Linked DNA regions of Homo sapiens: region 1 is linked to region 2. Evidence: fine-mapped expression QTL. Tissue or cell type: lung. Region 2 holds a variant in brackets; the other region holds the start of a gene. All regions are shown on one strand. Distances are from middle to middle.

The links. PIP is the estimated chance that this variant, and not a neighbour inherited with it, causes the effect.
Region 1: FRMPD4 starts here. The variant in region 2 is fine-mapped to the expression of FRMPD4 in lung (TOPMed, PIP 0.95).

The regions. Positions count from the first base shown.
Region 1 is chrX:12,134,187-12,142,271 of GRCh38, reverse strand. FRMPD4 (FERM and PDZ domain containing 4) reads right to left here and starts at 3,799. Exons shown (of 17, transcript NM_001368397.1): 1 at 3,260-3,799. The coding sequence starts at 3,300.
Region 2 is chrX:12,419,173-12,427,278 of GRCh38, reverse strand. The region is part of intron 1 of FRMPD4 (FERM and PDZ domain containing 4); the gene reads right to left. Among named protein-coding and RNA genes, the nearest start is that of FRMPD4-AS1, 48 kb to the right of the region's middle. The variant A/G (reference allele first, on the strand shown) is at 4,591.

The DNA of each region.
Region 1 (8,085 bases), 280 kb after region 2:
AGAAAATTAGCATTCTAATATTAGATATTAGTCACTGCTATATACCACAAAATAACCCATGCAACTATAAGAAAATGCAAAGTAAAGCATTCCCCAAATTTACCTACTACTATAAGAAATCATCATATCAACAGTGGGGACTCAATCATTATCATCAAGTCTACCGTTTTGCTTAAAGAAAAGAAGCCAAATCAGGGACTTAATCTATGAACATATCACTCAATTTAATAACATCCCTATGAGTTTTGGATCTCAAATCATCTCCCTCTGGCAAAAGGGGCATAATCATATGTTTTTCTACTGGACTGCATTCTTCTATAAACATTTGAAAGAATGCATCTGCTTTACAAATAAAATAGTCAATACAAAGAGCAGTAACAATAAAAATATATGCCTGTTTTTATACTATTACTGGTTTATAAGGCAATCATCTGTAATGCTCTCATCTACAAGGATGGAAAATAATATAGAACTGTTACCAAGGAAACAGTGAAGTAAAACTGCATGTAAACTATCAAGCAGTTTAAGAACCAGAAAATTAGAAGAACGGGAAAAACCATCTTCAGATAGAACCATGACACACTGTGCCACCCACGAAGGATGCAATCAAGGGTCATAACTCTAACTGATGATGTAAAGGGTGCCAACTACTTACCAGCAATTCCAACACTTGGCAGCAATTTTTTTTTAATGGTACTGGGTTATTGAGGGGCACTGTCAATTCTGATTTTTCCCACGATTAAAAGGGTATAGATTCTGGAAACGAATAGTTAAATGTAGACACTCTAAAAAGTCAAAATATGCAGTTTATTTATTCCAGTGTCGAATAATATTCTCTTGGAATTCTCTGTAATTACACTGTCTTTACTCACAGATAGGACACTAAGCAAATATCACTTCCAAGATATGCCTTCTGAATTAACATTTAGAAGCTCAAGTTTGTAGGAACCAAAGGTAAGGCCAGGTACCCAGGGTAACTACATGTGTTTGCCTCTAAACCAAGAGAATTTTAAGCACTGAAGTAACCATGCTGATCAAAGCTAAATCCTTTAGGAAGATTATCCATTCTGAAATCAGGAAAATCCTGCAGTATAAGCACTTTCATACTTCACCTTTGAGAAAAGAACTTGCTTTCTGTAACAGTGTTTAAAACACATACAAGACTTTCTTCCTCCCAAGGCAGAAACAAGCAACTGCAAACATGTGTTTTTACATGCTGATGACCCTCTAAAGGTACTTCTATCTCAGCACGGGGACCATCCTCGGGCTCACACTAAAGAAAAAGAAGAATTCTATGGATGGAAGATTTCTTAATCGGCACATCAGCTCAGAACATTTGCACCTTCTGTCTTTAGAATAAACACTCTACTGGATCACATTAAGGATAGAAAGTGAAACTCACACTCATTTACTAAATTTTAAACTCTCTTTAAAATAAGATACCACTCTCCCCACAGCCTTGCTTGAGTTTTGCAAAAACTCAGATTTGTGAATATCATGTAGGCATCCTAGAATTTAGTAAAAAGAATATGAAACATCTTTTCACTGACACATGACACTGTCCTCTCCAAAGTTCCTAAGTTTAAGGACTAAATCGAGGCTCTAGATGTTTTGTTAAACTGTTTTTAGCATCTGAGGCCACCAAAAAGTATCCTGGTTACTTTGAACTATACTATTGGTTGAACTTCCCTTTCCCTTTAGCAGTATCTCTGTCCATCACACGGAGGGTACCACTTAGCCTCTAAACTTGCACACAGCTGCTTCCCAACCATGGTTCAATATTTGACAGCTGTTTAGAAACTAGCCCTAGGCAGAAGCATGCAGGAAGTTAATAGAATAGTGGTGTGAAGCAATGGCCCTCTATGAGATCAGCTTGAAAGCAAACAATTGGCCACACCACAATCATCCACTGCTTAACACATCAGTCTTCTGATCTGCAGGACAACACCTCTTCCTGAGCTGCTCTAAGACACAGGTATTTACCCATCAACTGCGTATCTCCAGTCTACTTAGAGTAAGCTGCACTGGGCCTTTCTGCCTGGGGAAATCTGCTAGTGGCATGAAGACTGACCCATGTTAGTAGAAAGGGAAGGTGGAGATGGGCAGGCAGAACAAAGACCTGTAGATGTCGGAGAGAATGGCAACATCCAAACAGAACCTTTCTGAAGTGGTCTAATGTAATTTAATAAAGCAAAGTCAACATACGTTTCTACCTCTGACTATTGGAAGCTGCTCATCCCTGCCTGATGCAATCAACACATCTCACTCTGACACTCAGGACTGAAGGAAAACCTGGGATTATTCTGTCCATATTGCAAGTAAGTTTTTAAGCTACATCCTGGAAAAACCCAACTGTCTACCTCCTACGTCCTGGTGGTAGCTGCTATAAAGAGCTCCAGGGGCAGAGAAGGTTGGGCATGGTTTTCTAAGACCACTCCTATTGGGCTCTTCCCAATTAATGCCACATAGCAAGCAGCACAAACCTTACTCTGTGGCTCAAACGAAGACTTTGGAAGCATAAGCAGGGCAGAAGACCTGGAGGAGTGCTCTGGCCAGGCAACACCTAGGCGGCCCAAGCGTGGAAATGTTCCTCTTTTATCAGTACTACCCAAAAATGTCTGAATCGATGATTTAGTTTTAGCTACTGTTTTAACAACATGGCCACTTAGAAGAAAATTTCTAAATCTTTCGAGGCTTAAGAATATAGTTACCCCCCCCCCAAAAAAAAAAAGGCTGAAAGTCTTTCTCTTCTATCTACATGACTTCGCCATCTAGGTTACCGTTGGGAGCACCTGGTCAATCTAGGAGCTGACTTTGTGGAGGTGTGGAGGTGTAATTTAGGAGTTGGGGGAAGGCGGCACTTTTGGTCTTTGCAGCTTGGAAGGCAGGCACCCAAGCTCCAAGCACTTCTGGGTTTCCCTAGCAGTAGCAATTACAACCATCTTCTCTTAGCCCTGAATTATACATGGGACCCCAAACACCGCTGGGGCTTTTCCTTAGGGAAAACAAACTGTCGTGAATGTCGGTGTGTTGGTGAGGGCATGTATGTACCTCTCTGTGTGTGGTCTACACCCGCCGCTACACAAGCCTCAGCAGCCAGTGAGAAATAAGTTGAACGTGGAAGCCCCCGGCCACTTCGTTTGTCTTAAGCCCCGTCGCGCTTTCCAGCTTTTGCCTCTACCCAGCCTCCCGAAAAATAAGGCACCAAGTTGCCCGCGGCAGCGGCCCTGGGTGCAAACGGAACCCGCGCAGCCCCTACCTCGAAAGCTTTGCAATCTTCACAAAGCTGAAGACATCCATGCAGGCAGCTGGGGACCCCCGAGCGCGACAACTCCGTCGCCCCTTCTCACGCCAGCAACAGCAGCCTCCGCAGCCCCATGGCCAAGACCTCAGTGCGCCCGGGGCTCGAGTCGCGGCGACAGCGGGTGGCGGCGGCGGCCGGAGAGAACCTGCACCTGGAGGCGGCGGCTGCTACCCCCCTCCGGCCGCGAGCTGCGTGTGCATCCCCGAGCAGGACCATTGATAGGCACCCGAGGCAGGAAAACTCAATGGAGAGGGAGCCAGGCAGGGCGCAAGAGGCGGGGGCGGGGAGCGCGGCCCGGGTCTCGCGCCCCGCCCCGTGCGCTCTAGCCCCGGGGACTGCCGGGCGTCCAGAGAAAGCGAGGCCTGGGCGAGAGGCGCTGCTCTGGCTTCCCGGCCCTCGGACCCTCGTGCCCCACGCACCGAGGAGCGCAGACGGAGCCGGGAGACGGCAGGCGAGCTGGGCACACGCGCACGCACCCCTCGCAGCACTGCAGCTGCCTCCCTGCCTCCTTCTCCAAGCCGAGTCCCTGCTCCTCTCCCCACCCCCACCCGCCCGGGGGGAGGGGGCACTCTCCTGTCACCCACTGCGTGTGCCTCTAGATCTGAAGGATCTGGTCTAACAGTCTATGGCACACTGGAGAACTGTGAACGCTACCCCTCCCTCCCCAAGCCGAAGGAGAGCCGTGCAACCGCAGGTTGCTCAAAGCCTCGGTTTGCTCCGTAAACAAAACTAGCGTTCGGAAGGAGCAGGGATGATTGAGGTTGGGTCGTTTGTCAAGGGGAAGGGAAGGGAGATGCCAGGCGCAGCGGGCTCGATTCGGGGAGCTCAGAGTTCCCACTGCTTCTCCCGAATCGCTGGGGCGAGACGTGACCACTGGGCTGGCTGGGAAGGTGTGTCTTTGGACAGCAGCACCGCGGGAGTGTCTGCCAAATAAGAACCGGAGGCATTTGCGGGTAGGGGGATGAACACAGCTGCTCCCTCCTCGAGGAGCATAGAGCGGAGGGTCCCAGGAGCCCGTGATGCGGAGGCTAATTCTAACCGGGCTCAGAATCTAAGGAAAGAGAAGGATTAGAATGGGGTCTGCCACGCAGAGCGAGCTGCTTTTGCACACTGAGCCTTGGGTGAAGGGAACAGGGAAGAAAAAAACAAAACAAAACAAAACCTTGCCGGAGAAGCAAAAACACAGAAACATAAACACTCACCTTAGGCAGAGTAAACTCCAAGTTGCAGCCATCTAGAACTCCTCCTAGCCTTCTCTTTTACATAATTACCTTGGATAATCAGCCCTGTTCATTAACTCAGTTCTACCTCCTGGGAGGCTCAGGCTTCATTGGGCCCCTTTTTCTTCTTCCTCTTGAAGTCTCAAGGCCTCTTCTCCACAATCCTTTAAAATTTCCCCCCAGACTGTGAAGGTCAGCTGGCCGCACTAAGTGTGTGCTCTCCCACCGGCAGCGTTCACCTGGCGGCAGGGCCACCGCAAAGAACAGAGAGCACCCCCAGAAATGTTGGAAGATCCAGCCAGTGTTCCAGTCTAGCTCTCCGAGGGGATTAAGAAAGAAATAGGTTTAAAGTTCCCACACTTCTGCTCCTCTCCTGGTCTGTTGTTATATTTAAAGTCTTCAGTATTCAAGCCTAGTACTAAAGCGTTTTTTTTAAGCATTTATTTCAAAAACTGAACATAAAATAAATAGCAATCTGCAAAATCTAAATGACTTAAAACTCAGGCATAAAATTACATGTTTTTGAATACATAGTTATCAGTTTTCCTGCAGCTTCTATTAAACAGGCTAGTTTAATTGCATGAACGCAGTTACTACTCAAGGATCGGAAGGGGCGAGAGGGACCTTGGCTTTTGAACTCTATTGTTTGTAAAATAATTATAGTTTGGGTCTGCACTGTGCTTTATAATTTTTAAAGCTTTTTTTTGCATTGGAGTCTCATCGCAACCTTTTCATATAAGGCAATATATTTAGAAATCTTTTATTTTTATGCCATAATCTATTCTCAACATACCAGACAAAAAGATGTTTTGTGTGTGTGTATGTGTGTGTGTGTGTGTGTGTGTGTGTGTGTGTGTTTTAACGTAGATCACATAAGGCTACTTGTCTGATCTAAAATATGTAAAAGCTCCCCATTGTCCGTCAAGCTAAAGTTGCGCTCCTGCAAGGGCCAACAGGACCCTAGATCCCGTATCCTTTGATCTTTCTTACCTCAACTATTACTGCCCACTTCCCTCTCCCGTTTTTCTCTGTCCCTCCTCATCCCCTACCCCGAGCCCCTCCTCTCTCACACACATACACTCACTGGGCTCCAGCAATTCTGGACTTCTTGCTATCCTTCAAACTCTACAGGTAATCTTCCCACCTTAGGCTCTTTGCAATGGTTGTTCCCTCAGCCTGGAATGCTCTTTCCTGGGATATCTGCATGGCCGGCTTCTCCACCCTGTCAAATGTATGCACCAATACCACTTCCAAAATGCCCCCTCTAGAAAGCCAATTTAAAATTGCAAAAGGTTCTCACACCCTGGACTCCGAGTCCCTATTAACTGTTTTATTCTTTTTTCTTGTTTCCATAGCATTTATCACCCACTAGCACACTATATAATTTATTTTTATCTTTAGGATTTCTTTTTTTTTTTTTTGGTCTGAATCTCCCACTGGAGCTCCACAAGGGCTGGGATCTTTGTTTTGTTTTGCTTTTGTTTTTCACTGATGGATCTCAAATGCCTAGACCACTTCCCCAGATGTAGAAAGAACTTAAGAAATATTTGTTGAACGAACAAATCATATGCCCATTGGATTCACAGCCAAACCAAAGCTGGCCAAGCATCCCCAGTGAGTACTGATCTGTGTATGACTTCGTGGCTTACATCTGTCTCTTTCCCCACCCATCCACTTCCCCAGCATCCTTCAACCTCCTTTGGACTGACTGTTAATGATGGCAACAAAGGCCTTCTTACATTCTCCAGTTATTTTCCCCCTTCACCTTTTCTACCTTTCCCCCAAAAGAGTGGCCACCGACACGTTCCCTCATCTCTGAGTCAACATCTGGCAGCACAAGACCAGCTCGTGATTGGGAAAAGGGGATAAAACAGTGCCTTTGGAGAATGTGTTTTGAAAAAGTGCTTCCTTCTGAGAAGAGAACAGTTGGGATGCTCTTTTTAAAAGGATTACCCTATTTATCAATAATTATTCCAGATACCAAATATCTAATTATTCAACAGTGAAAGTGACAGGAAATAGACATTGTGTTTACTTCTAGAGAGACAGCCTCCCTTGGAGACATCTGGTCTACCTGGAACAGCTTGCTGTTGGCCTTCTCCCTGTGCCAATTTGTGCGCTACGGTTATGAATGATGCAGATGCCATCTCTCCACAGCATAATAGCTACCAAGGGAAATGACTGACTTCTACAGGTCTTTACACACCTCTCATATAGTAATTATCTAGTATGTTTTCTAATGGATTGATATTGTTTTCTAAAGCAAAGAGATTCCACCCCTCCTCCTTTGTTTCTCATTAATACAACAATGGAAAAAGCTGCTCCCTTGAAACATGCTAACACAGAGTGTTTATATCTTTAAGCCATCTTGGCAGAAGGGCAGAGATTGGAGTAGTTGGTCTCTCAGCTCTGTCCCCTCTCTGTGCCAGGTGTGTGCTGCAGAGGTTAGGATAGGTTTGTCTAGCATGAACTAGATCTGCCTAAAACAAATAAAAGCCAAAAAAGTGGGATCCTGAGTACATATGTGGTTTTCTGAAGTTTTCTTATTAACCTGGATGATCTCTAAGGCCCCTTCTGGATCTTGTAGGGATTTACTAGTTGGAAACTGTATTATCCAACCTTGAGAATCTACTTAATTTGCTTTACTTAGGTTCAAGTGACATTTGGTCATTTCTGAAAACCAGACACACTTTCAAACACTGTTGAAAGTACTCATGAATAAAAGACTCAGGGTCACCAGATCCAGAGCAAGTCCTATAACTTCTCTGAGACTCAGTTTCCTCAGCTGTAAAATGGAAATAATACATCTTTACCTTACACAAAATGAGCACTTGAAGTTGGCACCAGTTTACAGTTGGCTACATATGAGTTGAGGCACATGAATATTAGCTCTAGAAGGATTTCCACAGCTGTCTGCAGCCTTGGCAGTACTGGTAGGAAAAGTTTCAGCCTGTAAGATGACTATTTAGGAGGCCCAACATTCGCTTGGATTAATCAGAGGTAGGCACTTTTGCCTAAAAATCAAACACTTTGTTGCCTGGGCAGTTACTAAAGCCCTAGGCTGTAGCATTTTTTATGCCCCGGGGGATTCTCAGGGGGAAGTGTGAGGAGCTTCATCATTCTTAAGGCCTTATCTAAAGCTGGTGTTAGGAATCTGCTATTGGGCCAGATGTTCCATATAGGTTGGCAGCTGAGGGTTCTTTCGCTGCAAGTTACAATAGAGAGAGCCCCAAGCATTTCTCAGCTGGACTGAAGCATCTCGACCATCTGGTCTCAGTCCTGAAAACAGAAGTAAATAAATAACAGCAAGGTATCCATTCAATCAGCAAATATTTATGGAGTGTCTCCCATGTACCAGGCACCACTGTAGGCACTGGGAAATAGACTAGGCAACAAGGCAAGTTTCTGTTCTCATAGAACTTATGAAGAGGAGGTAGATGATAAACAACAAAATCAGAAATTGTAGTGAACAAGAAAATAGCAGATAGCAATGTGCAGAGAATTAAAATTCTTCTGATGGAAAGGGAGTGGCTAGGTGGCTATTTGTTATTCAGTGGTTCA
Region 2 (8,106 bases):
GAGAAAAAGAACTCATTATGAATGTAAAATTTTGTACTAAAGAGACAGAACATTCTTAAATATGCGGTGATAAAGTACTGGAGGAGGGATTTCAGCAACCAATTAATTATCCTTTGCATCGAAACAAAATTAAGTTCTAAGGTGTTCAAATATAAGTGAGTATGTATATACATCATAACGATAACTAATGTTTTACATTATGCTTACAATGTACCAAACCTTGTCCTAAGCACTTCACATATATCAATTTAGCTAATTCTCACCATCCTATCTACAGTGTAAGGACTCCTATGATACTCGTTTTCAGAGATTAGGTACAGAGAATTTATGTAATTTCCCTGAGGTCACACAGCTAGTAATAGAGCCAGGATTCTAATCCAGTTAAAAAAAAACAAAAAAAAACTACAGCTAGAAGCCTCAAAAAATAGAGATCAGATGGAGGGCGTTTTATTTCCAAGTCAAGATTTGAGTGCATGCTAGAAGAGTAGAAGCTAAGAGATGGCTTCTGGAGGAGGTGAAATTAACCATCGGACTGATAGGAGTGTTCTTCATGAGCAAGCATCCTTCTGTGATTATGGAAGGGCAGATCAGGTTACTTTATTACTCCTTCCATTTTCCCTGTTCTGTGGTGTTTTTGTTTGTTTTGTTTGGGGGTGGCTTAAGGTCTATTAAGGGTAGAGAAAGGTGGGCGGCATGCAGACTTCCTTCTTCAGGTTAGCAGCCCTGATGAGAAAGAATAACAAGGCCTTATGCAAAACAAGATTGTCTACATTAGCTCAAACTGGGTCACTGATTTCAGGACCCAGTCTTTTCTTTGTATAATCTCTTTCCCATTCCATGAATAATCAGTTTCCAACTGCGAATACTCATCTCTAAGGTTAGGGGACTGCTCTCAACCATCCCTCAGGCCCCTCTTAGCCCTGAAAGTAGAAGATTTGAGGGCCACTGATCTCTGTACTAAGATGGTGCAGAGATCAACCATCTTCTTCACAGGCAATCAGGATCAGTGCAATTCAAGAGGGGTTACTATCTTGTTTCTATAATGTGTCTCTCCTGAAGCCACATTAAAATACTCTGACTGAAAACTACTCCATATTTCTTCCAGAAAGAGGGATCAATCCCTCTAGTCTGGGAATCCCAGTCTTCCTCAAGAGATAGTTATTGTCAAAATGTATTTTAAAATAAATTTGCTCAAGTAACAGTCATAAGACATTCATGATTTGAAAAATAACTTTCTAGAATTTTTAATGGTTTAGTATATATGGAAAATCACCTGCTGTTGAAAGCATACAAAATTACCTATACAAAAGATATCATCAAATCCTCATGAGAGTCCAACTGCATTGCCGAAGAGTATTTACATACACAATTCTCATCACTCTAATGGGAATTACGTGGCTAACACCCTCATGCATCAAAACAAAATAAAGTCCAGTAGAATTTAAGAATAGTAAAGACAGAGTAAAACAACCACACTAAGCAATCAAGACTGTATTGAGTAACAGCACATCAAGGTTTCTCAAGACCTTCTCACTCTAGAAATTTAGGACTGGATCATTCTTTCTTGCGGGGAGTTGCCGCATGCATTGTAGGATGTTTAGCAACATCTCTGGCCTCAACCCACAGGATGTCAGTAGCCCCTACCCACCCTCAGCTGTGACAACCAAAATGTCTCCAGACATTGCCAAGTGTCTCAAAATACCCCCGGTTGAGAACCAATGCATGAGACATAAGAAATATACCAGCTGTTATCTTATCAGGGAATTCTCTTAGATTCCAATGTTAATCTCTATAAAACAAGTTTACTTTGTATCTATAATGTAATGCTTGCAGATTCCCTCAATAGTGACAGGGAACAAGGTTTAGTAGGCCCAGAGCTCTAGGAAAAACAAGAGACAGCACCCTTTTACACATAATTTTTGTTTTGTTTCCACTGACAATGAAGAGAAGGGAACAAGAAATACAACTCTGGTTGGCTGGCAATTTCTGATAACTTTCAAAATTGTTCTGACAAGCAGATAGAAGAACATGATGGAACACAAAGCAAAAAGACTAAACAGGAGGAAGGTGGCACTTCTTTGAGAAATGTGGCCTAACAAAATAAAGGCACAGAAAAAAAATTAAGCACGAGTATAAGCTCAGTAGGTATGTCTGTCTTGTGAAGAAGGCAACACTCTACTTACTTATTTTGTCTTCCTGAATCATGTCAGGAAAAGTGACTAATTCGGTACAAATAATTAAAGCTGTTTAGGAATATTTTTTAAAGAAGGGTTTTTCATATTCAACCTACAGAAAATATCCCTTGGGGGAAAAAAAACTGAATTACTGAGGGATTTAGAGTAAGGCTCGTCTTTGACAAAGCAAACGCATTATAGAAGTAGCATTGCCTTTGCCCCAGTACACAAGATTCTGAAATTATAATCTTTATTTGTAATTCATGTGCCACTGGTGAACAGGGATGCTCAGAAAACTTTCAGATTATTAAAAAATGTTGAAAGCTGTCATATATTTTCATGATGTGGTAAATGGCATAATTATTTCCCAAATGGAGAGACCGGAGCATTTGGGAGATACACGGTCAGTGGTTGCATAGGCAGTAAGTCTAAGTTGAAGTCTGAACTTCAGATAGGCCTTGAACCTCGCTAATCAGAATGTGGTCCCTTGACCAACAGAAAGCAGAAGCCCGGGTCCCACCCTCGATCTATCTGATCAGAGTCTGTATTTTAACAAGATCCCCAGGTCACAATTATGCTCATTAAAGTTTGATAAGCACTGCTCTAGAGATTTCAGTTTTACCATTTAAGATCATATTTTATAGACTCTTTTGTGCCAAGAGAAATATTTTTTGAAAAAGTTCTTTCTAGAGCTTCTTGAGAAATATGAAAAAAGTCTTAAAATGAAGTCCTACTATTCAAGGAATAGCATATTATATACAAAAAGTGACAACAGAAAATGAAATCAATAGAACTAGAATTACAGTGACTAAGTAAAGCCTTCATTGCAGATGTTCTTCAAAGGAAGGGTGTCTTTAGCTGGATAGTTAACATGGGGCAGGAAAAATCAATCTGAAAAGAAATGACAAGGGTCGTATGGCAAGCTCAAAGTAGAACTACTCTATGACCGGTAACCATACCCAAGATAGATACTGCCCATCATTTCTTCACAATGACAAGTTTCGGTCCTTTTGTGCAAATGTACAAAATGCCATGCTACTAGTAACAAGTAATTAAAAACCCGAGATGGCCCCTTAAACTCAAAAGGGCATGATATGTTTTATTTTGAAAGCTTCTTGTTCTTTTCTGTTTTTTTTGTTCCTTTTTTCTTTTCTTGTTTTATACTTAACAGTATAAGACAACATGGTGGTATTTGTTAGTATCTGCTGACAAGCCTAAGCCATCCAGTAGTGTGTGATTTGAGATTATTGGGCACAGAAAGCTTTATTGGGCTTTGTCAGCAGTCCCCACATGCTAACATCATTGCATGAAGTTTATCTAATTTCAAAATGAGTAAAAGTTCAATGCATAAGGTTAAAGAGCATCAGTAACTAGCAGGCAATTAGCTCCATAAATGAAAAACAATGTTATGCAATTGAAAGACAACTGTACAAATCTTTCAAAAGTACAATAACAATAAAGTCAGCCACTGAATTGCAGAGAAAGGAATTTCAGTTACATTGATGAGGTTATTTTTCCCTTGCAAACCTTTCTGCACCCCCACCCTCACTTGGGCAACAATAATACAGTAACAGGAAATATATCAAAAAGGTGGAAGCTTAGAAGCTTAAAGCTCATAATCCCCACAGTGGCAGCCAAAAGCATAATTAAGGAGAAGCACTCATTTGTTTTCCTTCCCTTTAAAACCTAATCTCCTATTTTTCCAAGACCTTTGGGAGGAACTACGATTTAGGGTCAAGTTTTGAACAATGTTTGATTACTGCCAACTGGACCCCATGACCTTATTCAGAATGAAATCATGTACCAACAGATTTCGGGAGTGGGAAATTTTTGTTTTTTATTTTTTATTTATTTATTTATTTATTTTAGACGGCGTCTCACTCTCTCACCCAGGCTGGCGTGTAGTGGCGCGATCTTGGTTCGGCTCACTGCAACAACACTTCAGGAGCCGGAATTTTTAAGAGGTGTTTTGCTCTTCCAAAGCCAGAAAATAATCCTTTCACACAAGGACATCAGGAGCACAAGGTTATAGCCTCTAGACTTTGCTCTTGGAAACCTACTGAGTTTCCACAGGCAGGATATGAAATACCCAGCTGTCAAGAAAACCCTTTCCCCTCAAATTCTCAGCTCAGTTTGAACAAACATGACATATGCGGTCTACTGCCCTTCTCTCCCTCTAGTAAACATGAGCCTCCACAAAAAAGTCACATCTTTCCCATTTTTGGACCTCTTCTGCCTTTTAACAGGTGCAAGCATGAAGAACCAAAAAAAACCTGTGTGTTGTTCAAGTCTCTTGGCAGTTAATCCCCTTCATCTATAACAGATTAAACCAAAAAGCAAGAGGGTTACTTTCAGAGTGGAATTGACTAACTATTTCCCACTTTTATAAAAATGTATTTTCACATTTGTTTCTCCT[A/G]TATGTTTCACTTCTTACAAAAATGAAGACCGCTTTCTAGCTCACTGTGGAATCCTGGAGAGCTTTCCTCATCCTCTGTAATCATTCTGAAAGCCATTACTTATCCAGTTTCTCCTGGGTACCAGGCACCGAGCTGGGTACCTTATTTGCATTATCTCATTGAATTCTTCAAACAGCCTTTCAAACGATCCTAGTTTATTCATCTGAAAATTTCCCCAATTTTTCAGATGAATAAACTAGGATTGTTTGAACAGCTATTTGAAATAATACCTATGTTCCCCATTTTTCAGATGAATAGGATTGAATAAAGTGAATGTAATAAGAGGAAGACGCTCCCTATTCAGGTTTCAAACCCCAAATATCAAAGCCTACAGCCTGTCTCTAGCGTCCTACACGATATCTGTTTCTAGAAGATGGCTAATAAGCATTTGTTGAACCCAACTGACTTGTAGACCATGGTCGTCTTTGCCAGATAATGAGCTGAGTCCTTCAAGGGAAATGTACCAGATAAGAGACACAGGAGGTGGTGATCATGTGCCCTTTTCTTTTCAAAAGAAGCACGCCCCAAAGCCATACTCACTTATAATTCATGATTAAACACATTAAATGATAATACCGGAAAGGAAATGTTTTACATACCAAAAATGTTTTACATACCAAAATGTTTTACACCCTGTTTTCAAGGATTCAAACATGTTAGACTTTTTTACTTCCTAAGTGTTTGTGGAAATGAAGGTCTGGTGAGAGAAGGGCAAGAGGGAAGAACATAATAAAGGGAGTAAGAATGGACAGCAAGAAGATATCCAAGGCAAGAACCGGAACAGCTTTGGGACACTGCCTAGGTTTACATCTCACTGGTCTCCTTATGTGATCAACTAGAAATTCAGCCCCTGCCCCCCCAGCTTTTTTTTTTTTTTTTTTTTCTTTGAGATAGGGTCTCTGTCTGTCACCCAGGCTGAAGTATAGTGGCCCAGTCATAGCTCACTGCAGCTTGGAACTCCCAGAGGCTCAAGCAATCCTCCCACCTCAGCCTCCTGGGGTAGCTGGGACCACAGGCACACACCACCATGCTCAGCTAATTTTTTATACTTTGTGTAGAGACGGGGTCTTCCTTTGTTGTCCAGTCTGGTCTCAAACTCCTGGACTCAAGCGATCCTCCTGCCTTGACCTCCCAAAGTGCTGGGATTACAGGCTTAAACCTCCACATCAGGCCTTAAATTAAGCCTTTTTATGAAAAAGATAGAAAAAGCCTTTTACCTCCATTGCAAATATTTTAGTTTTTGAGACGTGAGCATGGAAGCCTAACCTACCAATATTATTTGATTAGAACATATGTGTTGTGGTAACTTCTGTAGTTACATTGTCTCACAGATGTGACAAAACAGTTTTCTAAAAAGGATTATTTTGTCATTAGGGTTTTTATAAGTAAAGGTCACATTTGACATAAAAAAATGGAATTACTTTTGGTGACATACTTCTTAGGACAATAACTTTTGATCAGATGTCAATTCCTCACACCCCACCCTCCTCATATATAGATAGAAGACTTAACCTGGTCAATGTGTTGCCAACTCCCATTGCCAATCAGGACGCAGATAGTCTTTCATGCAGGCAGTAGGTGAAATTATATCCATGTCTTCGAACACCTATAAATGCTATATTTTTGTAAGCACTGAAATCACTGCCTTTCTGTGCTCAAGCCACCTGTGATTGTTTGACAAAGGAAAATCAGTAAATCTGCTCACCTTTAAAGTGAAAGATAAATTGAAAAGAAATACGAATTTCCTCATTCGACAAATAGGTACGGAGAGATTGTGGTTAAGTGATGGAGCTGGAAAAGGATGCTGTGAGGATTCTATGACATGTAAGAGAGACAAGGCTGCTGCCCTTCTGAAGGTCACATCAAACATGCGGTTACATGTGTGGATTGACAAACGCCATCACAGAGCACACATAGGGTGTTACAGAAGGCTAGATGTGTGTCAGAAATCTAAACTTGAATATCAACGACCGGTGTTGAGTTAGTCAGCACTGCCTGTGTTCAGGGTAAGAAGGTGTAAATGGGGATGGGGCAGGGATGGTGGCCCAGGATGAAGGATGAAGGATCAGCATGTGTGAGGGGCTGAAGGGGAGAGCCCATGGCAGCATGGAAGCCCTTGGAGCCAGCACAGAATGCCGAGGGAGGGCAGGTGATGAGAGATGCAGCAAGTGAGGTGAGAGGTGGAGGGGACAAGTGTTTCAGGGCCTTGAAGAAATAGTGAATTGATGAGCTCTGTGCCTTGGAAGGATGACCCTGGTGGCACAGTGGAAAACAGGCTAGAAAAGAGCCAGTTAGGAGACTACTGCCATTAGTAGAGACAATGGAGGCCCGGGTGGGACAGTGTTAGAAGTTAGAGAACAGCAGATTGTTTTGAGGATTCAGGACACTGATGACACAGAGCTTGGAGATTGCTTGGATATTGTGAAAGACAGTGAGGGTTTAAGACAAAGGAAAGAGTCAAGAATGGTTTCCAAACTTCTGGTATGGGCAACTAGACAGAGTGTGGGCCATGAGAATAGAGATGAAGGAGCAGGCGTGATGGTGACATGATAAGTTCAGGGCGTGTTAAATTATAGGTGCTGGTGGAATAGGCAGGTAGAGGTGTCCCAGCAAGCTGCTCAGTATTTAGGTATGAAGATTGGCAGAAAGATCTGGGCTGAACACAGCTGTCACCAGCCTAAAGACGGTAACGGAAAACAAAGAAGCATGGAGTGTGGGAGGAGGTGAGGGCCCCACAGGTCGTTAACCTTTAAGGTTAGGCAGAGGAAGAAAAGCCCATGAAGGAGATAAAGGAGGAGGAGCCAGGGAGGTAGGAAGAACACCAGTAGTGTACATGGTGTTCCTCTCTGGACTCCTGTAAGTCAGAGGAAAAGCATTTCCAGAAGAACGGTCAAGAACAGTGTGAATGATTCCCAGAAGTCTAGTAAGGACTTGCCCTTGAATTTGGTGTCCTTGGAGCAAATAGGTTCAGTGAACTGATATGGGCAGAAGCCAGATTTGACTGGGTTGGGGAGTTTTAGACCAGCACTTCTCAACCATTTCACCCTCAGGACTCCTTTCCACTCTGAAACATTTTTGAGGACCCCCGAAGAGTTTTTGTGCATGTTGCTTACATCTACCGATATCTAATATACTAGAAAGTAAAACTGATAAATTATTGAAATATTTTTTATGTATTTAAAAACAACAATTCTATTTCATAAGTCATATCTTTTTATAAAACATAACCATATTTTCCAAAACAAAAACATTTGGTGAGAAGAACAGCATCTTTTTACAATTTTGCAGATAGATCTCTTTAATACATTGCTCGACAGATGACAGTGGGTTTTTTCTATCGGCTTCTGGATTCAATCTGTTGCAGTACTATAGGAGACAGGATGCTTTGTCCGAGACAGGAAAAACAACTTATCTTCCACCCTCACAAGGGGGAGGAGGTGATGTAGTATGTGGATATGAGTAAATCAATAGGTTTG